4 linked regions of the Homo sapiens genome follow. The main gene of each other region encodes a partner of the protein of the gene in region 2 in a complex. Each region holds a gene or a part of one and is shown on either strand. Other genes may lie near its edges.

Region 1 (7,789 bases), on a different chromosome or scaffold from region 2:
TCGAGGCTGCAGTGAGCTATAACCATGCCACTGCATTCCAGCCTAGGTGACAAAGTGAGATCCTGTCTCAAAAAAAAAAACAGAATGAAGTTAAAAAAAGAGAGATTAGACAATTTGCTTTCTCAAGACGCAGCTGCACTATTTAGAAGGAAATACAGTGAACTGTCATTATTCATAATAGTTATGTTCTATACAGTTGCCATAAACACTGAATTAGCCAATACTGAACCACTGCTCCTAGGGTAAATACATGGTTAGCTTCCTGCGAGCCTCTGGTCACATTTCATCAACTGATCAACACACAATCTTGTATTATGTGTGTTTCTGTTTAAGGACAGCTTATTTAATACATATTATTGAGTCCGTAACTCATGCCTGAACAAAGCCTATGATTTCATCCACTGATCAATACACAACCTTGCATTATGTGGGTTTCTGTTTAAGGACAGCTTATCTAATATATATTATTGAGTCCCTAACGCATGCCTGAACAAAGCCTATGTTAAATGCATGTATTAATATTTTCCCCTAAAGGCACAGCACAGCCTTCTTGTGCTTAGGAACTTTATACAGAACTTTAATACTTTAATACTTTGCTTGGGGGACATTTTAAACAGCAAAATCACCAACAAAAAGCACAAAACACGGCACTAAATAGATAGTGAAGACAACCTCTGTTTATAGTTTAAGAACTTAAAACAAGAAGGCCGAGCATCACCTTGTTAGATCTCAGCTGGGAAAATGGACACTGAGCAACTCAACTTTTTTGCTGCTTCTGGGCATGGTGCTTTTGGAGTAGAAGTAAATTTTAGTGAGTAGGTGAATTTGCAAATATGGAATCCCCAAGTAATAAAAATCAATTGTATTTTGAAAAGACAGACACATAAATTCTGACTCACAGAAAGGAGGAATTCACTCCAAAGAAACTTGGCAAAATTATGTTTTGTAAGTAAAAAATATGATAACTATTTTTTCCCTTGGCTTTATAAGTATTAGTTATTTATGTTACTGTGTTTTACAGAACTTTTTCAAATACTATATTATTATAGTCCTAGCTAAGTTGTGGCATCATTTTCTATGCAGGGCCAAATTTTCTTCATCTACTTCAACCAAAACAATTATCACAAGGGACTGAATGCACAAGCAGACATGAGAATCCAGCTGTCTTTTCATTAAGCCAGACATTAAAAAGATTTTTAATAATGCAATTCATCTAACTTCTTTTTTGCTTTGGAAAATATTTTTCTTAAAAATGTTAACATATAATTGGTTTATTTATTTATGTATTTATTTTTTTGGGAGAGTCTCACTCTGTCACCCAGGCTGGAATGCAGTGGTGCAATCTTGGCTCACTGCAACCTCCGCCTCCCAGGTTCAAGCGATTCTCGTGCCTCAGCCTCCTGAGTAGCTGGGATTACAGACATGTGCCACCATGCCCGGCTAATTTTTGTATTTTTTAGTAGAGATGGGGTTTCACCAGGTTGGCCAGGCTGGTCTGGAACTCCTGACCTCAAGTGATCCACCCGCCTTGACCTCCCAAAGTGCAGGGATTACAGTCAAGAGCCACCACACCCAGCCGACTGGCTTATTTTTAAATTAGTGCTTTTCTAAAATTTCTCAATTGGATTTTTTTTTTTTAAAGACAGGTCTCACTCTGTTACCGAGGATGGAGTGCAGCGGCACAATCATAGCTCATTGCAGCCTCAAATTCCTGGGTTCAACTTATCCTCCCACCTCAGCCTCCCGAGTAGCTGGGACCAGCTACTTGGGTGCGCACCACCATGCCCCACTAATTTTTAAATTTTTGTGGAGATGGGGTTTCACTATGTTATCCAAGCTGGTCTTGAAATCCTGGGCTCAAGTCATCCTTCTGCCTTGGCCTCCCAAAGTCCTGGATTACAGGTGTGAGCCACTGCACCCAGCCCGATTAACTTTTAATTAGGAATTTTTTCTCACAGACATGATACTGTAACAATCCAGGCACAATACAAATAACCCCCACCCCTCTAGTCTTTCTAAACAATAAATCTTAATGGCTCCCATATTATTTGCCGAATAGAGTTCAAGAATCAGACTGGCAATCAAAGCTCTCCACATTATCTGTATCCCTATCTCCCACAACACAAATCTTACCCAACAAAACCACAGGTAGGGTCCCCGAAGCATGTGACTCTGCTCTACTCTTCCCCTGGACGAAATGCACGTTTCTCACTTCTTGAACTCATCTAATCCTGCCCTTTCTCAAACTCCTGGATTAGTTGCGCCGCCCATAGGCTCCCGCAGTAGCCCACACAATCCCTTGGCAGAGCAGTTCTCAAGAACATTGGCATGCACTGCTTTCATTATCTTCACCCCTTCAACCCCCAAACACGACAGGGAGCACTTAAATGCATGAACTGTCTCGTACACGGGACTGCCTCCTCCACATCCTCTGAGCCTAGTGCCTGGAGACACTGGGGATGCTTACTAAACGAAGCTTTCCCCCACCATACTCACTTGAATTCTGCTACCATTACTCTACGCTAATAATGCAATTACACTTTTCGATTCAATCTTGCTTTCATGACTCATTTATACCTTCCTCGGCACCTGCTTAATTCATAACAAATGACGAGTAGTTTCTCTCTTTAAAGCTCTAAGAGAAGGAAACTGAAGGATAACCTTGAACATTACACTGTACCTACAAATACGTTCGGGATCTTTCGAGGTACGTTTTGGAGAGGTAAGTCTTCAAGTGATATAAAGCCGTGTGCATTGTGAAGCACATCCCCAGATAAGCCACTTCCTCACTCTCACAGCACCCCGAAACTGTCCAAACTACGGTTCACAATCACTTTTCACTCCAGAATCACGAATACATCTCTTAAGACGCCTCGACTCCAAGTCTCACGAAGGCCAGTACCGCGTCCTGTTTAACATGTTGTGCTCTCCCGCTTACCCACCAAGCCTGTCAGGATCAAGGAGCACATGCATCTGGGGTCATACTGTGACCTCCCAGCCACCTCCCTGGGATTGGCCTCGCCGCGGCAAGGGCGCCGGCGGACGCCGCGCTCACCTGCACCGCGAGGCCGAGACCCTCGTGCACAGCGTAGTTGAAGGACTCCACGTGCGCCCGCGTCAGCTCCTGCAACGCTGCCTTTTGCTGTTCCCGCGGGATTCCATAAGAGGGGTCAGTCAAGTGCTTTAGGCTAGGCCCGCTGGGCAGGTTCCGCCACCGGCTGCCAGGATCCATGTGGCCACCTGCACACCGGACGCCAGTCTCTCGGTACACGCCGGACGCCAGTCTCTCGGTACACGCCGGAAGTAGTGGCCGCAGTCCCGTTTCCGCAGCCTGCTGGGAAATGTAGTTCCCTCTCGTTCCACCCGCCCTAGGCCCTGCGGTTTCGGTTTCTCGGGGTCAACGTAGAACCAAAAACGTCGAGTGAACGGGCCGATTAAGGCCGTGTCCAGCCAGAGCGTGGCGGGCCCTCCCTTTCTCCCATATTCCGCCCCACTCATCTCCCCGCTCGCGAAAGATGCCGCAGGTGGAAACCCGCTCCCCGCCCAGTTGAGCATGTGACCTCTTTGGCTCTCATTGGCTCAGTCAATTAGGATCGGAGGAGAGCGGTCTTCTCAGGCTCTCTTCTGTTTCCCTTCACCTGTTCCCAGTCCCACGCTGATGCCGACCCTGGGGAGTCATCCGGCCAAAGTCGTTGCTTCAACGAAAAAGCGGATGCCGGGCCCCGGGCTGACTCTCTACCCAACTCCTAACTCGCGAGGCTCACCCCTGGGAAGCCAAGGAGTGGTCGGGCCCCGCTAACCTCGTCGCATCTTCCGGACTGGAGGCCTGGGGGAGGCCTGGGGAAGGAGGTGGGAGAGGAGTCGGGCGGTCCCGGATGGAGGGGATGGGGCAGCGGGGCGTCCAACTGGATTTACAGCCTGAATTTCTTTTGCGTTCCTGTGAGCCCCTTACCTCCCCAGAATACTGATTAATCAGGGAATGCCTGCTGGTTTTTCAACTTTATTGTGTTTGTGTTTAACAGCTATATTGCGTTATAACTGGCATACAATAAACCACACATTTAAAGTGTACGCGTTAAGTTTTGACCTATGTATACAACCATGCAGCCATCACCACAATTAAAACAATGAATTAAACCACCACTACCCAGTATCCTCCTGCCCCTGATAGTCCCTCCTTACTGTCAACTTCCCCTTTCCTAGTTCAGCTGGTACTTTTCATTCCTATATCACTTTTTATAAAAAATTCGAGCCGGGAGTCTGTTGCACAGGCTGGTCTTGAACTTCCGGCCTCTAGTGATCCTCTCGCCTTGCCTCCCTAAATGCTGGGATTACAGGCATGAGCCACCGCGCGCGCCCGGCCAACTGAGTAGTTGTAGTTCTTTATATAGCCTATACTAGTCCTTGTCAGATCCATGATTTGCAAATATTTTTCTCCCATTCTGTGGGTTTTTACTTTCTTGCTGGTGTCCTTTGAAGCAAAACGTTTTAATTTTGAAGTGTAGTTTTTTTCTTTTGTTGCCTGTCTTTTTATATCATATCTAAGACATCATTGTGTAATCCAAGGTCATGAGGATTTAAAAAAAAATTTATGGGTACATAATTAGCATATTTATGAGGTATATGAGATGTTTTCATATAGGCATACGATGTAATCATCACAGGAGGGTAGATGGGGTTTCCATCACCTCAAGCATTCATCATTTCTGTCATGAACATTCCAATTGTACTTCCTCAGTTATTTTTGAAGGTACAACAAATTATTGCTGACTGCAGTCACCCTGTTGTGCTATCAAATACTAGATATTTTTCAATCATGGGGATTTTCACCTATATTTTCTACTAAGAGTTTTGTAGTTTCAACTCTTACATTTAAGTCTTTGACTCATTCTGAGCTAATTTTTGTATATGGTGTGAGAAAGGCATATCACTTTATTCCTTTGCATGTGGATATCCAGTTGTCCTAACACCATTTGTTAAAAAGACTATTCTTTCCCTCATCAAATTGTCTTGGCCTCCTTGTCGAAAATCAGTTCACTATAGATGCAAGGGTTTATTTTTGACTCTCAGTTCTATTCTCTTGATCTGTATGTCTATCTACATTTATCTGTATATCTGTCTACAAACTACACAGATTTGATTAATACAGCTTTGTAATAAATTTTGAAATCAGGAAGTGCACATCCTCCAACTTTGTTCTTCTTTCTCCAGATTTATTTGATCCTTTGTATTTCAATATGGATTTTAGCGTCAGCTTAGCTTGTCAATTTCTTTCTCTTTTTTTTTTTTTTTTGTTTTTTGTTTTTTTGAGACAGAGTTTTGCTCTTGTTGCTGAGGATGGAGTGCAGTGGCATGATCTTGGCTCACTGCAACCTCTACCTCCTGCCTCAGCCTCCCAAATAGCTGAGATTACAGGCATGCACCACCATGCCTGGCTAATTTTGTATTTTTAATAGAGACAGGGTTTTACCATGTTGGCCAAGCTGGTCTTGAATTCCTGACCTCAAGTAATCCATCTGCCTTGGCCGCCCAAAGTGCTGGGATTACAGGTGTGAGCCACCACACCCGGCCCAGCTTGTCAATTTCTGCAAAGAAGGCTGAGATTCTTGATCAGGATTGTGTTCAATTGGTAGATCAATTTGGGGCCTATTTTCATCCTAACAATAATTATCTCCCAATCCATAAACATGGGATGTCTTTCCATTTATTTAGGTGTTCTTTAATTTCTTTCAGAGATGTTTTGTAGTATTTGGTGTAGAAATGAACTTTTGTTAAATTTATTCCTAAGTATTTCATTCTTTTTGGTGTTGATATAAATGGAATTGTTTTCTTAACTTCAAATTGTTTGTAATATGTAGAAATACCATTGAGTTTTGTATATTGATCTTGTGTCTGGCAATCTTGCTAAACTCTTTATTAGTTCTAACAGCGTAAGTGGATTTCTTAGGACTTTTTCTATATGGTATCTTGTCGTCTGCAAAGAGAGATCATCATACTTCTCCCTTTCCAATCTGAATGCGCAGTCTTCTTTCCTTCCTTTTGTCGAATTGCTCTGTCTAGAACATTTAATACAATGTTGAAGTGACAAGAATAAATATACTTGTTTTGTGCCTGATATTGGGAAGAAAGCTCCCAACTGGAGCTTTCACATCACCATTAATATGATGTAGGCTGTGGGTTTTTCCAAAGATGCTCTTTATCATGTTGAGGAAGTAATTTATTTCTAGTTTGTTGAAAGGTTTTTTCCAAGAAAGAGTGTTGTGTATTGCCAAATGCTTTTTCAGTGTATATTGAAATGATCATGTGCTTTTTGTCCTCTTTTTTCTATTAAAGTGGTATATTATATTAAGTAAATTTTGTATGTTAAAAAAACCTTGCATTCTTTCTTTTCCCCTTCTCAACGTTTATTTTAGAATCAGGGGGGTACATGTGCGAATTTGTTACAAAGGTATATTGGGTGATGCTGAGGTCTGGGGTATGGTTGAACCTGTCACCCAGGTAGCGAGCACAGTATCCAATAGGTAGTTTTCAATCTTTGCTCCCCTCCTTCTCTCCTGGCTCTAGTAGTCCCCAGTGTCTGCTGTTCCCATCTTTTTTTTTTTTTTTTTTTTTTTTAGACAGAGTCTCTGTCACCCAGGCTGGAGTGCAGTGGCGCAATCTCGGCTCACTGCAACCTCCGCCTTCCAGGTTCAAGTGATTCCCCTGCTTCAGCCTCCTGAGTAGCTGGGATTACAGGCGCCTGCTACCACGCCCGGCTAATTTTTTGTATTTTTAGTGGAGACGGGGTTTCACCATATTAGCCAGGATGGTCTTGATCTCCGGACCTCATGATCCGCCCGCCTTGGCCTCCCAAAGTGCTGGGATGACAGGCGTGAGCCACCGCGACTGGCCTCTTCCCAACTTTATGTCCATGTGTACCCAATGTTTAGCTCCCACTTTTTAATTTTTTTGAGACAGGACTTGCTCTGTCACCTAGGACAGAGAGCAGTTGTGCGATCTCTGCTCACTGCAACCTCCTCTTCTCAGGTTCAAGCGATTCTTGTGCCTCAGCCATCAGAGTAGCTGGGATTACAGGCATGCACCACCATGCCTGGCTAATTCTTGTATTTTTTATAGAGACCAGATTTAATCATGTTGCCCAGGCTGGACTCAAACTCCTGGCCTCATTTGATCTGCCCACCTTGGCCTCCTAAAAGTGCTGAGATTATAGGAGTGAGCCACCGTGCTCAGCCTAGCTTCCACTTACAAGAGAACATGAGTTATTCCAAACTTTGTAATCTTAGGATAAGTCCCACTTAGTCATAATGTATAATCCTTTTTCTATGTTGCTGGATTTGGTTTACTAGTATTTTGTTGAAGATTTTTTCCGTTTGTATTCCCAAGAGATTATTGGTCTGCTATTTGCTTTTCTTGTGACATCTTTGTCTGGTTTTGGTATCAGGGTATTAAGAGTGACCTCATAAAGTTGAGGACACTCTTCTCAATTGAGGAGTATTTTCTTCTCTTCTATTTTTTAGGAGACTCTATGAAATATTGGTGTTAATTCCTTACCATCTGGCTTACAATCTGGTCCTGGGCTTTTCCCTGTGGGAAGTTTTAAAAGAATTATTATTAGTCCAACCTCTTTACTTGTATATTTCTTCATTAATACAGAAATTAACAAAATTTGTTACTGATTTCTGATTTTATTCCAACATGGTCAGAGAACATATGTAGTATAATTTCAATTCTTTTAAATTTACTGAGACTTGTTTTATGGCCTAGCATGTGATCTACCCCAGAGAATGTT
Region 2 (7,892 bases):
GAGGTCCTCCACCTAGGACTCCAATGACAGGTATGTCAGATCTTTTCACCAATTCACTTGTATGCTCGTTTCTGCACCTTTCATCCTTTTTGTTCTCCATGGTTTAGCCTGATATTTTCTATGCAGTTCATTAATCCTCTCTTTTGCTATGTCCAATCTGCTATTAAACCCATGTATTGAGATCTTAATTCCAAATACCCTATTTTTCAAAAGGAAAAACAGAATTTCTCTAAATCCATCTTGTCTTGAATATAAATATGAGATAAGTATTCAACAGTTATTTTCTGTAGCATTTTAAAAAATCTTTTCAAAAACACCATTAGTGATTGATAACCTGAAAGCACAGTCTTGCTTTTGTTTTAAACACAATCCTTAATATTTTGTAATATAAATGAGCCAAAAGCTATCTTAAGAGAGTAAAATAAAAATAGCAACTTTAAAGGTATTGTTTAGTCCAGCCTGGGCAACATAGCAAAACCCTGTTTCTCCAAAAATACAAAAAATTAGCCAGCCATGGTGGCGTGTGCCTGTAGTCCCAGCTACTCGGGAGGCTGAGGTGGCAGGATCACCTGAGCCAGGGAGGTGGAGGCTACAGGGAGCCTCACGTGATCATGCCATTGCACTCCAGCTTGGGCAACAGAGTGAGACCCTGTTTCAAACAACAACAACAGCAAAGGATTGTTTAGTAAAACAAAGCCTGTTGAAAAATTTATAAAACTTAGTTTCCACATCTGAAGGTTTGATAATGCCAATTTTGATCACGAAAGTATAAAGATAATTGGCCTTTTAAAAGAAAACAGAGATAAGAACTTTTCTCTATCATTTCTTTAGGTTGAAAGGACCTTTGTCTTTCACCTCTAAAATGCCATGATTAAAAACTGAACACAAAATATACAAAGAATTCCTATAATTTAACAACAAAAACCAAACAACCCAATTCATAAAAGGGCAGAGGACTTGAATAGACATTTGCCAAAGATGATAAACAAATGGCCAATAAGCACATGAAAAGATACACATCACTAGACATTAGGGAAATGCAAACCAAAACCACACTGAGACACAGATACCACTTCACACCCACTAGGATAGCGGTCCCCAACTTTTTTGGCACCAGGTCCTGGTTTCGTGGAAGACAATTTTTCCACAGACCAGTGTGAGGGTCAAGGATGGTTTCGGGATTGCATTATTTATGCACTTTACATTTATTGTGCACTTTATATTATTACATTATAATATATAATGAAATAATTATACAACTCACCATAAGTAGAATCAGTGAGAGCCCTTGTTTTCCTGCAACTGGATGATCCCATCTGGGGGTGATGGGAGACAGTTACAGATCATTAGGCATTAAATTCTCATAAGGAGCACACAACCTAGATCCCTCCCATGTGCAGTTCACAATACGGTCCGGGCTCCTATGAGAATCTAATGCCACCGCTGATCTGACAGGAGGCAGACCTCAGGTAATGCTCACTTGCCTGATGCTCACTTTCTGCTGTGTGGCCTGGTTCCTAACAGGTCACAAACAGATACCGGTCCATGACCCAGGGGTTGGGGATCCCTGCACTAGGATATCAATGATCAAAAAAGGGGATGGAGAATAGAAGCTGTTAGCCAGGATGTGGAATTGTTGGTAGGAATGTAAAATAGTGTAGTTGCTGTAGAAAACAGTTTGACAATTCCTCAAAAAGTTAAAAGAATTACCATATAATCCAGCAATTTCACTCCTGAGTATACACCCAAAAGAAGTGAAAGCAGCGAACTCCAACAAATACCTGTACACTAATCTTTAGAGCAGCATTACTTATAATAGCCAAACAACAAACACAACCCAAATGTCTACCAAGAAATGGATAAGCAAAATGTTGTAGGTACATAAAATGGAATATTATTCAGCCTTAAATAAAAATGGCCGTTCTGATATATGCTACAACATGGATGAACCTTGAAAACATTATGCTAAGTGAAATTAGCAAGACACAAAAGGACAAATGTTATATGATTCCACTTATATGAGGTACCTAGAATAATCAAATTCACGAAGATGGAAATTAGCACAGAGGTTTTCAGGGGCTGGGAGGAGCAGGCAATGAGGAGTTATTGTTTAATGAATAGTTTCTACTTCGGATAACGAAAACATTCTGGAAATAGACAGTGATGGTGGTTGCACAAAACTGTGAATGAATGTACTTAATGCCACTAAATTATATGCTTTAAAAATGATCAAAATGGTAACATTTATTTTTGTATATATTTTCCCACAATTTAAAATGTTAAGCAATATTATATACAACAACCCCATGAAACACTTAGGGACAAATTTAACAAAATACATACACTAAAAACTACAAAACAGTTCAGAGAGAAATTAAAAACCTAAATAAATGGAGAGACATGCCATGTTTACACTTTGGAAACCTCAATACAGTTGAGATGTCAATTCTCTCAAACTGATCTATAGATTCAAAATCTCAGCAAGACCTTTTTGTAGCAACAGGTAAGTTGATTATACAATATACATGGAAAGTTAAAGAACCTAGAAAAGCCAAAAGCAATTTTGAAAAAGAACAAATTTGTATGACTTTCATGATATGATTCCAAGACTTGCTACAAAGCTACAGTAACCATATTAAGGCCACATGAGATATTACTACACACCCACTAGAATGGCAATAACTCACATTTAGAAGACCTACAATATGAAGTATTGGCAAGGATGTGGAGAAACTGAATTTTCATCTATTGAGGTGGAAATATACATCACTAGAACACAACAGACTTCATATACAGCCTACTGGTTTTCAACAAAGTTCCAAATGTACTAAATGGAGAAAGGAGAGTCTTCAATATAATGCTGGAACAACCACATGGGAAAAAATGAACCTTGACCTTTGCCACACACTACCCACAAAAAAATAGCTAAAAATCTACCATGACCTAAACATAAAACTATACAACACATCTAGAAAAAAAAAAAAAAAAGAACTCTTCATTATCTTGAGATAGGCAAATATTTCTTAGACAAAAAGCACTAACCATAAAAGAAAAAAAAATGTACAAACTGAACATCAAAACTAGAAGTTTCTACTCTTTGAAAGATACTATTAAGGAAACCAAAAGGCAAGGCACAGTCAGAGAGAAAATATTCATAATTAATATTCTTCACAAAGGACTTATATCCAGATTATATAAAAATTTCCAAATCAGTAAGAAGACAATTGATCCCCCCAAAAATAGACTAAGTAGTTGGACACATGACAAAAGAAGATACAGGATGGCCAATAGACATACTAAAAGATGCTCAACATCACTAGTCATTAGGGAAATACAATTTAATGCCACATGGGACACCCACAAGAGGCTATTATTCAAAAGACCTCCAATACCAAGTGTTGGCACAGATGTGGAGAAACTGAATTTTCATATTGCTGTGTGAATGTCGATGGTACAGTCACTTCAAAAAACAGCTGGGCAGTTTCTTAGGAAGTTAAGCATATACTTTCCTTACTACTCTTAGGCAGCAACTCCTCTCTCAGGTAGCTACCCAAGAAACATGAAAATATATGTGTATACAGAATCTTGTACATGAATGTTCTCAGCAGCATCATTCACAATAGCCAAAAAGTAAAAATTACCCAAATGTCCATCAAGAAGTGAATGTATAAAAATGAAATACTATTCAGCAGTAATAAGGAAATTACTAATATACACAATAACATGGGTGAATCTCAAATATGTTACGCTGAGCAAGAGAAGCCAGATTAAAATGACTACATAAGAGTCCATTTACATGAAATTCTAGAAGAGATAAAAATTAATCTATAGTGACAATAAGCAGATCAGTGATTGTCTGGGGCCATGGTTGTGGGGACAGACAGGCTGCAAAGGGAAATGAAAGGCATTCTGGGGGCGACAGAAATGTTCTATATCATGATTACCATGGTGGTTCATGAATGTAACGCATCCAAGCACATACTTAAAATAAGTGTGTTTACTCTCTGAAAACTAAATTTCAATAAAGTTGATTTTCAAAAAATATCAGTGCAGAGTATTCCAACCAGGGTTGCACAAGACTTCTGATCCTCTCTCCTCAGTCTCATCCGGGCAGCAGGGGATAGTGTGGATGATACATACATGGAGATGGCAGCTGGAGCCAACTTTCTCTGTTTATCTCAGTGTACTGTACATTATTGAAATTTTCTGTAGATGCTATAAAAGTTAGAAAGCAATGGCCTAAGAATGTTTTAATGTAGATTCCCAACCCTGGTCAAACATCGAGATAAAAATTCTATACCTTAAGCACACTTATCAATTTTGATCTTGGTGCCTTCTGTCTCTTTAGAAAGTTGTATAAGTAGATATGGGCATTTGGATTTGATGGAAACTTTTCATCATATGCATAATTGGTGAGTACCTCTTGGGCTCCATCTCGATCCCCATAGAATTCCAGCATCTATATAAAATAAATCATAATATCTTAGCTGAATTCTGTAAGACAGCTATACGAAAAATAATACACAGCATAAGTTTACTGATGGGTATTTTTTAAAAATCACAAAACTGACAGGGTTCCCATTTTTTCCCTGTATTTTGTTACTACTAATAAACAATGCAGCAACCTCAACATAAATTCTCTTCCTATAAAAAATAAGAGTCCTCAAAGCAGGGAACACTAATGCTCGAAAATGTGATGCAGCTAACCTCAGTGCCCTACATCACTGCAGCCACAAAAGGAGTGCATGAGAATTGTAATTCCTTTCATCCTGTTCCCATCCTTACACAGGAATCTCCAGATTATGATTTTGGAGATTATCTTCTGACAACACAATTATCAACTTGCCACTCATTAACTTTCACAAAGCAAATTATTTTGAAGATTTATTCCTAGTGCCTAGCACCAAGGCCCTCAGTCCTTTTACAATGACTCTGGGATGACAGGACATTCTTATGAACTTCCAAAAAGCCATCATTCTTCACCTCATATAGTATGACCCATTTTTTCAGATTTTTGTCCTCTTTCCTTCTATATCCCACCAAATCATAAGGTATCTTACTGCATTTCTTTTAAGCTCAACAAGAATAAGATTGAATTAACATTTACAACTATACTGCTATTTATTTTATAGATACTTGGCCACGACGGGTTATACAGTGGTGAAAATAAACAAATTCAGACCAAAAAAGAGACACCGTATTTTTGCTTTCTTTTAAATAATTTTTTCCATTAGTTTCTTTCTGATCAATAAAGATTAGGCATGCAGTCTTTGTATAGGCTTTTGACAAAATAAAACCAATAAATTTAATGAAAATTCTACTTACTTCTACATAACTCTTCACAAAAGGGTCCCAAACTCCAGGAATTTTAATCAATGCAGAAATATTTGCAGATGTCTTCCAGCTGTGGTTGAACACATCCTGGGCTACTGCATTGTAAGCATAATCATCCTTATCTGCCCAAAGATACAAGATCTTTTAACATTCATTAAACATTGAGGACCTCTGTTAAATTAGTAATTTAAAAAACTATCTGCGAGAAAAACTCAGTTGCTGATAGCTACAACAGTAAATTCCAACAAATATTTAAAGGAAAATACTAATTCTTCACAAATTCTCCCAAAAAAAGGACAGAAAAGAATACTTCCTAACTTATTCTAAGCCAGTATTACCATGATACCAAAACCAAAGACAACACAATAAAACTACAGATCAGTATCTCTTAAGAATATAGCTGCAAAAATCTTTAACAAAAATACTAGCAAACTGAGTCCAACAACATATAAAAAGCATTATACATCATGTCCAAGTCGGATCTATACTAGGAATGCAAGGTTGGCTTAACATCTGAAAATCAATTAATGCAAATAATAAAATAGAGATCTATTGATCTAAACCAAATCAAAAGAATACAGGACCAAAACCTCATGATCATCACAATAGACACAGAAAAAGCATCTGAAAAAACACAATAACCCTTCATGATAAAAAGACTCAACAATGTAGGAACAGAAGGAACTTCCTCAATCTGATAAAGGGCATCTATGAAAAACTCATAGCTAACATTGAACTGAATGATAAAAGACTGCATGCTTTCCCCCTAAAATCAGTAATAAGACAAAAATGTCTTTTCTCACTACTTTTGTTCATTATATTGGTGGTTCCAGCCAGGACAATTAAGCAAGAACATAACAAAAAGATATCCAAGATTGGAAAGGAAGAAGTAAAACTATCTCTATTTGCAGATGACATGGTCTTGTACACAGAAAAATCCTAAGAACCCACTAAAAATTTACTGAACTAATAAATGAGTTCACAAAGGTTGCAGAGTACAAGATCAATACACAATAATCAACTGTATGTCTATACACTTGCAATGAACAAGCAGAAGATAAAATTAGGAAAACAATGCCATTTGCAAAAGCATCAAAAGTAACAAAATGGGTAGAAATTTTACAAAAGAGATGCAAAATTTTACTCTGAAAAGTGATACTGTTGAAAAAAAATTTTTTAAGACCTAAATGAATGAAAAGACACTCTGTGTTCAGTTGAAAGACTTACTATTGTCAAATTGATCTACAGATACATGTAATTCCTATCAAAAACTCGGCCTTTTTGCATAAGTTGACAGGCTGATTCTATAATTCATACGAAAATGCAAGGGACCAAAGAAGAACAAAGAATCTTTAAAAAGGACAAAGTTGGATAATGTACTCTATGACTATGGCCAGGCATGGTGGCTCACACCTATAATCCCAGCACTTTGGGAGGCCGATGTGGGTGGATCACCTGAGGTCAGGAGTTCGAGACCAGCCTGACCAACAAGGTGAAACCCCGTCTCTACTAAAAGTACGAAAAAATTAGCTGGGCGTGGTGGCACACGCCTGTAGTCCCAGCTACTCAGGAGGCTGAGGCACAGGAATCGCTTGAACCTGGAAGACACAGATTGCAGTGAGCTGAGATCCTGCCACTATACTCCAGCATGGGCAACACAGCAAGACTCAGTCTCAAAAAAAAAAAAAAAAAAAGTACTACAAAGCTGTAGTAATCAAGACTGTGTGATATGGGCAGAAAGAGAGACACATGTAGATCAATGGAAGATTTAGAGTCCAGAAGTAAACCTCTACATTTATAGGTAACTAATTTTCTTTTGTGTGTGTGTAAGACAGGGCCTTACTTTGTCTCCCAGGCTGGACTGCAGTGGCATGATTTCAGCTTACTGAAGCCTCACTCTACCTCCTGGGCTCAAGTGAACCTCTCACCTCAGCCACTCAAGTAGCCAGGACTACAGGCACACGCTACCACACTCAGCTAATTTTTGTATTTTTTGTAGAGATGCAGTTTCACCATGTTGCCCAGGTTGGTTTCGAACTCCTGAGGGCTCATGCGATCTACCTGTCTTGGCCTCCCAAAGTGCTAGGATTACAGGCATGGCCACTGCTCCCGGCTGCTAACTAATTTTCAGTAAGGGTGCCAAGACAATTCAGTGGGAAAATAATAGACTTTTCAATAAATGCTACAACTGGATATCCACATACAAAATAATAAAGTTGGGCCCCTACCTACTTCATAAAAATTAACTCAAAGGCCAAAATATAAGAGCTAAAACTTTAAAACTCTCAGAAGAAGTGAAAATCTTTGCGACCTTGCAGTAGGCAACAGCTTCTTAGATGTGATACCAAAACCACAAGCAACAAAAGAAGAAACAGTTAAATTAAACCTCATCAAATGAAACACTTTTATGCTTCAAAGGACACCATCAAGATAGTGAAAAGAAGGCCAGGCACAGTGGCTCACATCTGTAATTCCAACACTTTGGGAGGCTGAGGTGGGCAGATCACTTGAGGTCAGGAGTTCGAGACCAGCCTGGCCAACATGGTGAAACCCCATTT
Region 3 (7,931 bases), on a different chromosome or scaffold from region 2:
AAAAAAGTTAAGCTAATTTTCAAGTGCAGAACTATCTATCTGTATCTGATACAAATGGGAATATTCACTGAACCCTGGAGAGAACGAGCATTTGAAAAAAAAAAGGGTTCACTTAAGAGATATGATTTTATCATAACAGCATTGAAACTTTAATCTCTTATTTTTCCTATTTGACTTCTTAAAAAGGGTGGCATTGCCAAGAATTTTCTTTGATATGGTTTCACAATTGTATTCACCTTCTCTCCATTCTGAGACTTATCCATAAGAATACTCACTTTAATCCGACTTCTACTGCATGGTTGGAAAAGAAGATACGCAATAACTCTTTCAAACTCCTTTATCTCTTTTACTCTCTCATGCTTCTCATATGTAAGTAGCTGGCTCTGGCTTCTTCTCAAGATTCTCTCCTTGAGTCTTTGTTCTGCAAGTTCTCTCCCTCGAATCATGCGTTCCTGGTGATCCTTAGTCTGCATCTGTTCCCTCTCATTTACCTGCTTTCTTCTCTGTGCGTTCTGGATGCCATGCCCTTCTGGCATAATTTTTGGTAATTTTGTTTCATTGGGGGGTTGTAGTACTTGTCTAAATGGTTTGTTCTTAAATTCTCCAGCCTTTCCTGTTTGATGTATGTGCCTTTCTATGTGTTTCATCTCTCTCTCAGGTACCAAACAGTACTGTTTTAGTCCTTCTACGCTCTGGGTTGTTTTCTCCTCCATTTTTTTCTAGATTTCATTGCCTGTCTCTTCTTTCATCATTTCCACTATTATTTTATTATAATAAGACTCTGCTTTGGCAAGCCAGTAGTCAAGAGAAACAGCTTGCTCCCTACAGAGTATTTCACACTCCTCCTGATATTTCTGCATTATCAACTGTCTTGCTGCTGTTGTATGCACACCACCTAGATTCTGTCAAAGTGAAGTCAGAAATTTATAATGTGATCATCTTTTTCCTTTGAACACATTTAAACAGGAGCCAAGCCCACCCTCCCTAATGACACCAGGAAAAGCTACATGCTCTTTACTTTAGCTTAGTTGTTATTTTATTCCCATCACTCCCAGGTGAGCCTGGGAGCTCTGAAAGTATTAAGTACTCACCACCACAAATCAGTAACTAGGTTTAAAAATGTATGGTGTTGGAAGTTTCCAAAAATGATACTTTGTTTTGCAACTGTGGATATAGCTGGGTAACATTTGCCAGTGTAGACATACTACCTGAATGTGTCACTTGGGCAGAAGGATTTTAAACCTAAGATTCCTTCTCTGTGTAGTTCCAAACTGTATGATGTGAAGATAATTTACTTACCAAGATCTTTTTTTCCAGTGGAGACTGCTGACCTGCAGCAATCCTAGGATCTTTAGATGATGTACCCCAGGCCAATCTGGAAGATAAAAAAGGCAAGGTAGATTCAAATGTAGGAGGTGTCAGAACAAATCTGCTAATAGGGAGGACTACAGCAGGGCCATTTCCCCCATGGGAAACCACTGCATTCCTATGGTAGAAAATAATGAATGCTCTTTTAATAAGAGGATCTTTCCTTTCATATGAACAAGCATACTTTTCCTGTGGACTCAGCGTGAACCACTGTGAATCTCGTATTGGGGATTGTGAGTGGGAAGAGACATGCTCCTTGGTGAGGTGTTGTCCAAGTACATCTATGTCAGTCTGCTCAGTCCTCAAGCCTCCTTTGTGTTCTGAGACGATTGTAGGTTCTAGTTTTCTAGACGATTCTAGGTTTCTAGTTTTCTCTTCCTGCAGTTTCTTGATCCGGGCCCTCTCTGACTCTATCAGCACATACAGCATTTCTGCCCTCTAATCTTTTGTTCTGAAATTCTGTTATTTGACTGCTCAGCCCTCTGCTTGCCTGACTAACAATGCCAATCATCCTTCACTCTAAATCCATTATGAGACTATTCCCTGTTGAACCCCTCAGGATGGCAATTTGTGGTTACTCTGGGTTTATTTATAGAGGAGGCTGATGGCAACACAAATGAAAACTATCATCTTTTATGTGTCATCCCTGGTCTAGCCTGAGTTTACTGTGATGTCGTATTTAAGCCACTGAGGATGCCTGGCATTTCCTCTGTATGTCTTTTATACCATTTAGAGTTCAAAGGATGGTCTTTACAGTCTGACAGAGCTAGATCTGAAATCTAATTCTACCACTTCCTAGGTGTGTGACTCAGGGCAAGTAACTTCTGTCAGCTTTCTCATCTATAAAATGGAGATGTAAGACAAAAATCTGCCTCTCAGGGTTATAAAGAACAAATATGAATTAGATGTAAAGAGCTTGGTAAGTTCTCAATAAATTCTATCTATCTGTCCTTCACAGGTCAAGCTCCTGATTATAAAGTCTTTCCAGTCTACTCTGTCAGTGATCTTCCCTTCCTCTAAATACTTGACATATTTTAATTCTACAACTCATTTGAAAATTAATCGTGGTTTACACTGTGATATCTGTATTCACATATCACTTTTAACATTTTGATGCTGAAATTTAGGCTCATAAGGAATGAAAACTGTAATTTATATCTACAAATATGATGCCTCTATATTGTTGGAAAGGATCTGATATCAAATATTTGGTCTCACTGACCTCTTAGGAACATTCTTATTTGTCTACGTAAGCTTATTTTGAGATTGTAAACGTATGATCATCTTACTTTTACTTCTCTGTACATGGCTTCTAGCACAATACTTAACATTAGAGTCTGTGATCCCAAGTTCTCAAAATTAATGATTTGCTGATTGCTGATGATCCTTGACACATAATATCTGAGCATCTTTTTTAAATATCTGCCATAACATTGTATCTATTTTTATTAAGCCATTTCCCAGTCTTCCTTGAAGTTTACAGATATGTTTCCTTTATATGCATGTTCTGGGCTCTCACATTTTGTACCTACTAGCACAGTTTTATTATATTCTAATTATTCATTCATGTTCCTTGAGGTCAGAGAACACAGATTTCAACTTTGCAGGCTCAGCCTCAGCTCAAAACCTGGCATAGTTGCTCAATAAATCTTTACTGATTAGACTGTGAGCTTTTGTTGGGAAAAGGATATGCCTTTTAATGCTTTGTTCCTTTACTGCAATTCACAGGGGATGTTGGCTGTTTTTCAAATTAAAAACAGAAAACTGAGGAGGGTAGAATTTCAAGTTCCATTTTCAAAGGAGACACACAGATAAGTGAGAATAAAAACTGTCTACGACAATCAGCTCAACAACACGTCTCCCTTTGTAAGACAGAATAACAAGCAATTTCACAGTTAAATGATAGGGCTTGTCACTCTTCAGCAGTTTGCTGAGTTTTAACCCTTTCACTATGGCGTTCTCTCCATTATTACAGAGAAAGGCAGATGGGAGCCTCTCCCAGCGAAAAGACTACAGCTTGTGTCCTTCATAGGAGAAAACAGTGATGGCTCCAGAACTTTTATATGAATGAACTTAGCACAGCTATCAGAGTGGATGGTGGTGGGAGGGCTAGCAGGAAACTAGTAAACAACTACAAGCTGCCCCTTCAGGGAAAGTTTCTACTTGGAATATAAGTTACAGATTAATGAAAATAGAAAGATTTCCCAAAGATACTTATTCTCATGTTTTATAAAAGATCAGGGAAATGTCAGCTGTCCACTTAACGGATGACATAATGAATTAAGAGTTCGATAGGCGGCAGGCACAACTAAAAGCCAAACTCGACCTAAGTCTTATGAAATCCTACTTAATGAGCTTTCTTGACTACTGCTAGCCTCACTTATCTGGCAGGAGTCGAAGGAGAGGAAGCCCCAAGCTCCTCTGTTCCACCACCTCCAAAGTCCTGAACCCCTTCTCAAGTGTACCACTTCATCCCTGCTTCCTTTCGTCCCGTGGGACTAAGCATTCCTCGGGCCTTCACTCTCACCACTTGCTGTCCCTCAAAAAGCCGACTCACCCCTTTCCAAGCGCAGTGAACCGTCCGCAAAGCACGAGGCCGGTTGCGAGCTGCAGAAAGCCCACGCTCGCCAGCGGGACCCAAGGAACGCTAGAACTATACGTCCCAGAACACTTAGCTTTGTTTTTAACTACGGTGCAGCCGCAAAAGGGAAATACCGGCTCAGGACCCAGGGGAGTTGTAGTTCTCTAATCCAAAGAAATCATTATTTGGCAACGTACGGTTTTCAGGGGGATATACCCCGCGACTGCGTTCCTGTAGGATGTGAGACAAAGAGAATAAATATCCCAGGATTGGGTGCTGGTGGGAAAATTTGCTGGAAGCGCAGCATTGGTTACCAATTTTGTGCTCAACCTCTCAGTACCAGGGTGAAAGTGGAGACGCAATCTCCCTTGGAAGACGTTAGTCTCCATCTCTAACGCTCCCGAGACACGGTTCGCAATTAATTATGACGTCACAGCCAATCGTCAACGCGAAAGCCTGACGCTCTAGCCGGCTCTATCTCGCTGCCCCGCCGCGGGCGCAGAGCTGGCGCTCTAGCCCACGGAGTTGGTTAACTCCTCTCACCGGCCCCTGGAAAGGGTTCCAAGTCCTTTAGTACCCGACGCTGTCTGGGAATTCCGGGCGTTTCGGCTCCTTGGTCGCAGAGGCAGGAGGCGTGCGTGGCAGGAGGGTTCGGGTTATATACTCCTAGGTCCTGGGACAGAATAGTTACGACCTCTGGGACAGGAACTCTTCTCTCTTTTGTTAATAAACTTCCAACTCCCTCCTCAGACCCGACCGCATGTCTGTCATGGACCTCGCCAATACTTGCTCCAGCTTTCAGTCGGACCTGGATTTCTGTTCAGATTGCGGCTCGGTCCTGCCTCTGCCCGGGGCTCAGGATACGGTCACCTGTATTCGCTGTGGCTTCAACATCAACGTTCGGGGTGAGAGGCTTGTACGCAGGGGTCCTGGCGGAGGGCGCAGGGTCGGAAGCTTGGGGAACTCAAGATCGGTTGGGTTGAGGAGGGGATCCTAGAGCAGGACATCAGGCGGTTGTACATTTGGTCTAGCGATGAAAACTGAGGGAAAGGATGTAGGGCCTCCTGGCCTAACCAGCCAGGGGAAAGGGGAGGTTTCCGGTGTCAGCTCTCTCTGGTTGTCTCCATAACCAGTTCTTACTTGCCTGTGCAGACTTTGAGGGGAAGGTTGTGAAGACTTCGGTTGTGTTCCACCAACTGGGGACAGCCATGCCTATGTCGGTGGAGGAAGGGCCTGAGTGCCAGGGACCTGTGGTAAGCTAATGAGATCAAGAACTGGCTCCATAAGGTGGGTAGGAAAGAAATGGAGGAGTGATTGCAAAGCTCTGGAGAGTTTTGTGCCCAATTCCAAGAGGGAAAAGAGATGTAAACCATCGACGTTTGAGAGGCGTGATCGCCTGATTCCTGTGGGAAGTAAGGGGATATGACCAGGCCTCCCTAACCCACCAGTTTCTTCCCAGGTTGACAGGCGCTGCCCTCGATGTGGTCATGAAGGAATGGCATACCACACCAGACAGATGCGTTCAGCCGATGAAGGGCAAACTGTCTTCTACACCTGTACCAACTGCAAGTGAGTATTCTTTCCCCTCCCTCTGCTCAGTCTGTTTGCTAACTAAACAAATCCAGTGATTTATTTTTTTGTACGAAATGGCCGTTTCCCTTGGTCCCATCCCTTATTTCTGTGCAGTTCTGGTAATAGGGAGATTTGTAGTTGTTTTTTATTTTTTTAAGTTACACTTTTTTAAACCTTTTTATAACCAGTGAAATAAACCTTTTAGGATTTTTTTTTTTTTTTTTTTTTTTTTTTGACAGGGTGTCGCTCTGTCACCTAGCCTGGAGTGCAGCGAGGCAATCTTGGCTCACTGCAACCTCCGCCTCCTGGGCTCAGGTAATCCTCCCACCTCAGCCTCCAAAGTAGCTGGGACCACAGACACATGCCACCACGCCTGGCTTTTTTTTTTTTTTTTTTTTTTTTTTTTTGTATTTTTAGTAGAGATGGGGTTTCTCTATGTTTCCCAGGCTGGTCTTGAACTTCTGAGCTCAAGTGATCCACCCACCTCAGCATCCCAAAGTGCTGGGATTACAGGCATGAGCCACCCCGCCTGACCTACTTTTAGGATATTTAAAAGGAAATGAAGAAAAAAAAAACAACATAAGAAGCAGGTATTGTTTAGTGGTCAGCATCTTATACTGCAGTCTTCAACCGCAGTCAAGGTAGCTTTCTTTGGAGAGAATTAGTCACACATGACTTAGAGAACATGGGCTTTCTGAATGCTTTTAAGACCTCATTTTTGTCTTTGGTGTTCTGCAGTCACTATAGTATATCAAAATACGATTTTCTTTTATTCTGTTTGGGATTTGTTGGACTTTCTGAAACTGAGAGTGGACTTTTTTTTCATCAACCTTGGAAAATTATCAGCCATCATCTCTTTTAATATTCTCTTTCCCCCATGTTCTCAGTCCTCACATTCTGGACCTCGAATTAGTTACTAGAAAGAGGTTTCTCTCTTCTGTCCTCCATTTCTCTCACCTTCTTTTCATATTTTCAATTGCTGTTCTCTTTATGCCACCTTCTGAGTAATTTCTTCAGGTCCCTCTTCCATGTCACTAATTCTGTCTTCAGTTTATTTCAAGTATTATTATTTTTTACTATTGTTATTATTTTGAGTTCTATTTAATTACTTTTCAAATCTCCTTAATTTTTAAATAATTATCAGTTCTTTAATCATATTTTAAATTGTTCCTTTTATTATTCTTTAAATATATATTTAAAATATTAAATATGGTTATTATATTCTATGTCTTATAATTCTGATATCTGCGGATTTTGTGTGTCTGATGCTGCTGTCTTTTGTTTCTGCTGTCTCTCTCATAGTGCTTTTTTTCTTTGTTTTGTGATTTTTGACTATAAATTCGAGTTTTTTAGAACTTGAACTGTAGGAATTCTTTGAGGCCTTGGGCGAGTGCTGTATTCTCAGCATTTGTGTTTCTTTTCTAGGTGCCTTGAAGCACTATCAAGCTGGAATTACTTTAAATAAATTCTTGGCTTCATGTTTTTTGGAGCAGACAGATAGTATGAATTTGAGCTGCAAATCCATGTAAGGGCTAGCTTACAGTTAGAAATTCTCAGGAGAGAGTTTTCTCTCTTTCTACCTACTGAGACAGTCAAATTCCCCTTCTATAGAGTTGAATTTTTTCTTTTCTTGTTCACTTTTACAAGAAAGGGCAGCCTTTTGCAGTTCCCAAATTTATGCACGGGATCTCCTATCAGACCTTATACATTTTGTCCCTCATTTCCTATGCTTCCAGTGACTGTCAAAACAGTATAAAGGGCACCATAGTGTCACTGTCACGTTTCATAGGGACATTAGTTTTAACTTCCCTGTCTGGATTTCTGGTTTTACAGAACTTTTAACCAGTGTGCAGATTGCCTTTACTTTCTTGCCATCTCATCAAAGGATTAAAAATATTCATAGTCAGATATATCTTTTAAAAGTATTTTTTTCCTATCACTGGTTGTCATTTTACCAAAAAAAAAAAAATTTTTTTTAAATAAAAAGAAGATTTTTTTTCCCAGCGTGTGGCTTGCCTATTTTCTTAACCCTCTTTAAATGAGCAGAAGTTTTAAGTTTTTATAAGGTTCAGCTTATCCTTTTTTTTTTCTTTTACAGCTAGTGCTTTCTGTGTCCTAAGAAATCTTTGCTTTGAGGTTATAACTCATTGGATATATTTTTAATCCCAGAATTTTTAGTTGTCTTGGAATTAGAATTGGAAGTTTGTTTAGGGGAGCCAGTCCTCAATGATGTCATAAATAAAAGTCCTTCCTTGATTATTTGATTGCATATCTTATCTTATACTACTAGAAACTCATCTTTTGGTGAATATAACAAGTCCTTTCTTTCCTCATAGGTTCCAGGAGAAGGAAGACTCTTGACCTTTTTCCTGGGCAACTCTACAGTCCCTCCCTCCTTTCGGAAGGTGAA
Region 4 (7,892 bases), on a different chromosome or scaffold from region 2:
TCAGCTACTTGGGAGGCTGAGGCAGAAGAACTGCTTGAACCCGGGAGGCGGAAGTTGCGGTGGGCCGAGATCGTGTCATTGCACTCCAGCACTCCAGCCTGGGCAACAAGAGCAAAAATCCATCTCAAAAAAAAAAAAAAAAAAGAACAGAAAGGAAATTTTTCTAATCATTAGGTAGCAGTAGAGATGTAATTAATGTTATACAGGAGATGGTTTCCTGAAAATCATGTGAAACTAAACTTTAGTGAACCATACCACATTTAAAATATATCAGAGAGTTTGTCATTTAATGTTATGGTAAATGAGTTAGCGATTCTTTAAAATATATTTTTTTGCCATTAATTTTCTTAAATAATAAAATCTCAAAGGATAAAGAAGTTCCCTGAACAGTCTAATCCCAATCCCTGGGCACACTCACTGTTAAACATTCCTTGTGAATACCTAATCTAAATGGAAGTTTCTTATGCATTTACAGTAAATGCCTACACAAGTGGCAATCATGCCACAGATCAAGAAAGCATTATGATGCCCTTGGGGTGATATGCCCCAAGAATGGGAAAGGTGATCTAAAATAAAAATACTCTTAAGTGTTCAGATACCTGAAATGAAAGCTTCTTCCAAAATTGACTTTACCTTGCCTGCCTTTTCTCATTACATAAAACTACAAAAGGAGACACATCACAAACCATGTTTTCCAGTTACATGTTATCTATATATTTCTCTCTTGTCTGTCTGCATATGTTTCCTCATTTTTAAAAATTAAGGTATAATTTACATTCAGTAAAATTTACTCTTTTCAGTGTAGTTCTGCTAGCACTGACAAACACATACAGTTGCATGTGTGTACTCACCACAATTACTACGTAGAACAGTTCCATCACTCCAAAATATCTCCCACATCCCTTGACAGTCAACCCTTGATCTCAGGCAACTACTGGTCTGTTTTTCTGTCCCCATAGTTTAGCCTTTTCCAGAATGTCATATAAATGGAATCATAGCATAAGTAACCTTTTGAGTCTTTCACATAGCATAATGCATTTAAGATTCACTCATATTGCTGGATGCATAAGAAGTCTGTACTGCTAAATGGTATTCCACTGTACGGATACAACAGTTTAGCTAGTCACCAGTTGAAGAACATGTGGTTTGTTGCCAGTTTTTGGCAATTATGAATGAAACCATTAGAAACATTCCTATGCAGATTTTTGTGTGAGCTTGTTTTCATTTCATTAGGGTAAATATCTAGGAGTGAAAAACACTGGATAACATAATAAATGTATGTTTAACTTTGAGAAACTGACAACTTTTCAAAATAGCGGTACCATTTTGAATTCCCACACTGGGAATGATCAGTTTTTGTTTTTGTTTTGTTTTGAACCATTCTAATTGGTATATAATGATATGTCATTGTCGTTTTAATTTGCATTTCCCTATTAATGATGTTAAACATCTTTTCACATGCCATCTTGATATCATCTTTGGTAAAACGTCTTTTCAAATATTTTGCCCATTTAAAAAAATGGAGTTTTTTTCTTATTGCCTAAAAATTCTTTATATACTCTAGATACAAATCTTTAAACGGATATGTGATTTGCATTTAATTTCTCCTCGTCTGTAGCTTCTTATTCGTTTAAGTTCTTTTGTGGAGCAGAGGTTCTTACTTCTGATGAAGTCCAATTTACCAATTTTTTTTCTTTTATAGATCATGCTTTTGGTGTCACATCTAAGAAATTTCTGCCTAACCCAAAAGGGAAGGCAAAAATTAGCAGTGAACTCAAATTAAAACCATAATGAGATATCACTATACACCAATTAGGGCATAGAGATTTTCTGCACAGGCTTAATTTTTCTCCATGTTCTTCTCAACATCTTCTATAACAGCTAGAAGTCATCAAAGTAGCCTCTTACGCTGTTTTAGGTTTTCAACTATTGTTTATTAGTGTTTTTCATAATCTCATGCATAGGAACCCATGCTCAGATATAGAAAATGTTTTAATAATTTTCATCTGACAACATGGATGATAATATTCAGAGAAACAAAGAGAAAAATTAGACATGTATGTCAACATGGGGGTGGGGAAGGGTGAAACCGACAGGTGGCCACCACGCACTGAGCTCTGGGCCTGAGCAGCAGTTGGTAGTGCTTCGCATATTACTCAGCAGTGACTCACACTGCACGTGTGTGTCAGCCCTCAGCACATACTCTAGGAAGAAGGACCTTGGAAACGGGTCCCCTCGACAGCCTCCACCTTGGGGCCCGGTACCTCCCTGGAAAGTGCCATTTTATAACCAGACTTACTTTCTTTGGCCAATAAATTATTCCCTAAAGTAGCTAAAAGCCGGTAAGTCTTAAATGTGCAACTGACATAACACTGCAATAATGAACTGGGCCTCCAAGAGCTATGTTTAAAGTGTAGGTTGGTGTCTGGCTTGGGGTAAGGAAAGCCCTGTCACCACTGAGACCCCAGGGAGGAATGGCCCCTAGGCACCCAGTCCTTAGGATCCGTCAGGACTAACCCCAGCTAGCACCACAGAAAGGAAGGCTGATTCTCCAAAATGACCTAAGACACATAACAAAATCTTGTTCCTGCTGCTATTCTTGTGCCCACTGAGAGCCACTGACTGAAGAGTCACTCCTTCTCTGATGAGGAGGCAGGGAGCCTGGTTTCCTGGGAATCCATGGGCTGTTGGGATAAATTCACCTCCACCCCTCTTCTTCATTGTGCATCAATCCTGCCTACTGAGAGGGAACCTGTCACACTTCCCTGCTATGGAAAGGATCATCTCCACAGTGCCTTTTCTACCCCAAGAGTCTGTTTTTCTATTTAAAAGCCCTCTGAAATTTAGAGGAAAAATAATCTAGTTCTACTCTCATACTGGAAAATTGGGTCTTAATTACAGTATATAAGTGGGCATTATTATGTCTATTTTACTGATGAAGAAATAGGAGCTGAACAAATTCTCATTTCAACTAATATGGGGAACCTTGATTTTTCTCAAAGGATATAAAATTACTGAGTCGAATTAGTATTACTGTAAATTTACATTAAATACAGAGATGTTACCTTTTTCTTCAAAGCCTCAAAGAGACTCAGACTCAGCAAAAGGTTAAGTAACTGGCCCATGGGCACACAGCTAGCTTGTAATGCAGACAGGATTCAAACCTAGCGCTGCTTATGCTCTCTTCTACCCTACCACAATGAGCCCACATCAGAATGACAGTTCAAAGAAAGGCAGTGACACTGGCTGAATCAAATGGACTTGCTATCTGCTTTCCTTTGTTTTAATTTTCACAGGGATCTTTATTTTGGGGGAACATTCCAATTACATATGTTGCAAGGTAACATTTGTAATCTTTTTAATATTGGGAAGCATAGATGAGAAATGACTAAATTTGAGAAAGGGGAAGAGGGAGGAGTATTAGAAATATAGGCAAGTCTCATGCAAATTATAAAAAGTTAAATTATAAAAAGTATACTGTGGTATCCTGCATTGGATCATGGAACAGAAAGAGGACATTAATAAAAACACTGGTGAAATCCACATCAAATCTAAACTTTGATTAATAGTAATGTAAAAAAGAGAAAAGTTAATTAGAGTGTAGGGCTAATATTTCCAGAAAAAAAAGTCACAATGTAGATAAGTGTATACTGATGAAGCTTCAGCTTTCAAATGTAAAGTAACAGACACAGAAGTAAGGCAGGTGCATCTAAACCAGGAAGGAGAACATACTTGGCCCTTGCTTCTTCCCATTTTTGTTTTTTCTCATCAAAAGCTTTCTTCATAATTTGGTACCACTTTCTGAAATCAAACCATGGCTTATCTGAAAGAAATAAAATCCAAGATTATTAACCAAATAAACCACACTATAATAATATACATTGTTCATCTGAGTTTTCATTAATTGACTGCACTGGGCAGTTGGTGTGAGTGTGTGATCAAGATGTAGACATTAGAGAGACAACAGAACTGAATGCAGTAAAGTATAAAAACTCACTCCTCACTCTTTCACTCCATACAGGGATTATTCTCCATTATTCTCTGGCGAAGGCAGTCTCTTTCCATGCCTAACTAAAAATCTTTTCAACTGGTCAATATGATAATTGTTTAATCCAATATGACCTTGTAGACCATACAGCCACAGAAGAGAGGAAACTACCGAAAGAACTGTAAGAACAGAGGAAAACTATAGTAATCAATAGAACTCACGGTTCTTGGACCTGGAGTAAATCACAACTTTTCTAAACCTCAATCTCCCCATCAATAATGCTGGGGGCAGGGGATGGTGATTAGCAGACAGAGCAGAGAGAAATGACAGTGATCTTTGCCCTGCTGACAGCATGGATTTATTTTGAGGCTTACAGGGAGACAGGTCAAAGCGCTCTGTTTATTCTACATGTCTACGTAGTAAATTATCATCTTTTAGCATTAGAGGGGATGTTAGAAGACAGCTAGTTCAACCTTTCACTCTACATAGAAGCCAACATGAGCAATGTACAGAAAGTAGTATTTTATTTTGCACATATTCTGGAAAGAACACACAAACTGATTGCTTCCAATAAATTCAAGCCTCTAAAACCAATGAACATAAATCCTAATGAGAACAGAACATTAAGAAACTGGAATTGAATTTAATAATCCACATATTCACCACACTTCACTGAGTTGCTCTTAGGCTAGTCACTATGTTAGGCACTAAAGATACATTAAAAGAAAAAAAAAAAAAGATATGATCCCTCCCTCCAGAAGCTCACACTTCACTTGTCTATCTGTCTATCACTTATAAAGTACTTATTAGATGCCAGATACTCTTCTAAGCACTTTACAAATATTGGCAATCTAATAGGGACAGACGTACTTAGGCCATTAGTTAGACCTCAAGGCACTAAACATCTAGCAAAAGTCTGAACAAGAGTGACTGCGGCAGGAGTTATTAGTTCTGATTTGGGAAGAGGTGAAGCATTGTGAAGTGGATAGGTGTGAAGACCAGACAGAAGAGTGGTGTTTATGCTGCATCTTCAAGAATAAAGAGGCATTTGCCAGGGACTGAACAGGAGTTGGGGTAAGAAGGAAAGAGCATTTCAGATAGAGGGACCAACAAGAGCAAAGGCTGAAAGCATCAGAATCGACAGGATGGTCACAAAGCTGCCTGTAAATTCATGATCTAGCATGGCTGGTGAGTAGAAGTTGGGAATACAAAGCAGCCTGGTCTTACATATAATACGGACTCACTGATATTTTTTAGTACCCTAGAGATACAAGTAGGTAATTATATGAAAAAACAATACTGGTACAATATACAATTTGTATACATGTGTTTATGTGTATATGTGTATTTTTCAAAGTTGTTTGCCTACATTTATTCCATCTTTTAATCTATCATCTATAACCACTTTGAATTTGAATGATAAAAAATTAAAATACCTTTTTTGTTCTTTTCATTATGCTTTTCAGCAAGATTAGACAAAGACCTGGAGATAACAATAAACAAATCAATTTATTTAGAAGTCATGTATTTGGAAAGATAAATTCTGAATTCTTCTGAGAGAAAAGTGTAGAACAGTATTTGAAATTGATACCATGTTTTAATGGAGAAGCAATCACTGAAACAGAGGAGGAGACACTATAAATACTGTCACTCTTTGTTGGCATCTGGGAGGGGTGACATATTAAGATTCCTTTACTTTCTAAAATAATCTTTGAGAACACATATTGCCAGGAGCCTAAAGGGATATAGATAGAGATTTATGAAGATACTTTAAAACTAGGAAATCAGTGGAGCAATGAGGAACATTGCTACCTAAAGAATAACAGGTATAAAACATGATCAAACAACTGACAACCAGCTGAGTCAAAGTACTGTGTAAGAAATAATTGTGACTACTAGTCAATGTTCTGTAACAATTGAGAGTCTCCATTTTTTGAGATAACATATAATTAGGTAAATACAGTACAAATTTTTTCTTTAGCTCTTTTTTTAAAGTGTCTTCATGACATTTAAAGCTTTCTTAAAAAACTAAGATCAGCACCATAAAATGTTACTTGTCATAAAATTGACGTACACTTACCACTCGAAACTGTCATCCAATAGAAAGAGCAGTTTCAATACCACCACAATGATAGCTACAGCTTGTACATCGTACTTAACAGTTTTTGCCATTTTAGCTATAGGATCAAATGTCAGAAAATCCACTTCTCCCATTCCAGTCATTTTTACCACGTGGCAAGTTAAGCTATGCATTTCATCTGAAGAACAAAACAGTAAAATGTAAATTATTTGCCAACTAGACCATCCCCAATGTATATATCCATAAAATAACCTTTATCTTAAAACACGACACTATGCAAGAACTCAGAGACCCACATTTTGTGAATAAAACATCAAAACATGGCATCCATATAGAAAAATGAATGGTAGAATCTTAAAACGGCGTATCATTCCCTATTCCGACTTCCTAAAACATCTACTATTTCTAGGACACATCCTGGCATCTGGCAGCCACATACCAGTTGTTTCATCCACATCTCTTGTCTGTGTTTCTATAGCAGTGTTTGCTCACCTAAAACTAACTCCCTTATGAGACCAAAAGCTTCTCTAGCAATGTATGTGCACTGGCTGGCATCCTGGCTAGCACACTGGAAGCCCTCAACAACTGTTTAACTAGATATATTGCTTTCCTAAAGAAATTATATGTTCAGCATAGACTACACCTATTACTCAAGACTGAATAATGTGGGACTTGGAACCAGAAAACCTAGGACCTATATTTAAGCTTTCCAATCACTAGCTTTGTGACTCTTGGATCAGAGTCACTTAGCCTCAGTTTCTTCACTTGTAAAATGGGTTATAATGAGAATAAATTGAGGTTATGTTCAAGTGAATAGACTTTGAAAACTAAACAAAAAATTTCTGTACTTCCCAATCTAAGTATGTAAGCTGTGACCACACAATTTCAAGTATGACAGCCATTTTTTATAAGAGATAATGAGCTTGCATGGAACTGAACTGAATCTTCTACATGCATTCAGTCACCATGTCCTGTTAATTCCATTCTCTCAATGTGGCATATAGTACCATGGTTGAGAATAGACTATGGAACCAAACTGCCTGGACTAGAGTCCCTGCTCCATCACTTACTAGCTCTGTGACCGTGGACATGTTATACAACCTTTCTGTGCCTCAGTTTTTAAACAATCTATCTAAAATAGGAATAAGAATAGTACCTGCTTCATAGCTGTTGTGAAGACTAAATTAATGAATATACCTAAGGCACTTGGATCAGTGCTGACTGCTTTCCAATCCATCCCCTTTCTTCCCGTCACTGTTGCTCCTTAGGCCACCCTTATAACTGCTCTCCCTTTCTCTAGTCTTACTCTCCTGTGGCCCAATCATCGTATTCCCCTGCTCTCATGAACTCACTAAAGCTTTTAGCTCCCAGCCTAATCTCCATAGTTCCCCCAAACAAGCCATATTCTCACTTGCCTCTCTGCTTTGCACAGCTACTTTTGCCCCTTTGCCTAGAAAGCCAGTTTCTTTCCCCCATTCCTCATCTCAGGCTCTGCCTGGCTGAAGCTCACTCATCTTAGAGAACTTGGTTATACCAGTGACCTCCTCTAAGAACAGACATGATACCACAGCCTCCTGTGACTGGCCCTCTTCTGAGTGCTAAAGCAGATGTCCTGGCATGTACCCTTCTATTGCACAGTTAAGGGTTTATCTTTCTGTTTCCCTCTTAAACTTGAGGGTGACTCAATCTTGTTTTATTTGTCTTCCTAACTGCTACAACCCACACATAATTCGTACTAATTACACGTTTATGATAAAGAATAAAACACAAAATTAATTTCTTTCTTGAAACATTTAAGTAAAAAAGTTTTGCTGATTAAAAAAT

Evidence for each region.
Region 1: TAF1A (region 2) and POLR1B share a complex: the UniProt entries of both Homo sapiens proteins name them as parts of the pol I pre-initiation complex.
Region 3: TAF1A (region 2) and POLR1H share a complex: the UniProt entries of both Homo sapiens proteins name them as parts of the pol I pre-initiation complex.
Region 4: TAF1A (region 2) and TAF1B share a complex: the UniProt entries of both Homo sapiens proteins name them as parts of the transcription factor SL1/TIF-IB complex.

What each region holds. Positions count from the first base shown.
Region 1 is NC_000002.12:112,537,938-112,545,726, reverse strand, and holds the start of POLR1B (DNA-directed RNA polymerase I subunit RPA2), read right to left. Parts: upstream 3,233-7,789; coding exon 3,056-3,232; intron 63-3,055; exon of another isoform or gene 1-62. UniProt on the Homo sapiens protein: Catalytic core component of RNA polymerase I (Pol I), a DNA-dependent RNA polymerase which synthesizes ribosomal RNA precursors using the four ribonucleoside triphosphates as substrates.
Region 2 is NC_000001.11:222,565,210-222,573,101, forward strand, and holds part of TAF1A (TATA box-binding protein-associated factor RNA polymerase I subunit A), read right to left. Parts: intron 5,457-7,892; coding exon 5,326-5,456; intron 4,460-5,325; coding exon 4,301-4,459; intron 4,216-4,300; coding exon of another isoform or gene 4,174-4,215; exon of another isoform or gene 2,216-4,173; intron 1,317-2,215; coding exon of another isoform or gene 1,265-1,316; intron 1-1,264. UniProt on the Homo sapiens protein: Component of the transcription factor SL1/TIF-IB complex, which is involved in the assembly of the PIC (pre-initiation complex) during RNA polymerase I-dependent transcription.
Region 3 is NC_000006.12:30,056,816-30,064,746, forward strand, and holds the start of POLR1H (DNA-directed RNA polymerase I subunit RPA12), read left to right. Parts: upstream 1-4,449; 5' UTR 4,450-4,709; coding exon 4,710-4,854; intron 4,855-5,101; coding exon 5,102-5,202; intron 5,203-5,408; coding exon 5,409-5,518; intron 5,519-7,857; coding exon 7,858-7,882; 3' UTR 7,883-7,931. UniProt on the Homo sapiens protein: Core component of RNA polymerase I (Pol I), a DNA-dependent RNA polymerase which synthesizes ribosomal RNA precursors using the four ribonucleoside triphosphates as substrates. Can mediate Pol I proofreading of the nascent RNA transcript.
Region 4 is NC_000002.12:9,909,090-9,916,981, reverse strand, and holds part of TAF1B (TATA box-binding protein-associated factor RNA polymerase I subunit B), read right to left. Parts: intron 6,247-7,892; coding exon 6,069-6,246; intron 5,472-6,068; coding exon 5,425-5,471; intron 3,824-5,424; coding exon 3,733-3,823; intron 1-3,732. UniProt on the Homo sapiens protein: Component of RNA polymerase I core factor complex that acts as a GTF2B/TFIIB-like factor and plays a key role in multiple steps during transcription initiation such as pre-initiation complex (PIC) assembly and postpolymerase recruitment events in polymerase I (Pol I) transcription.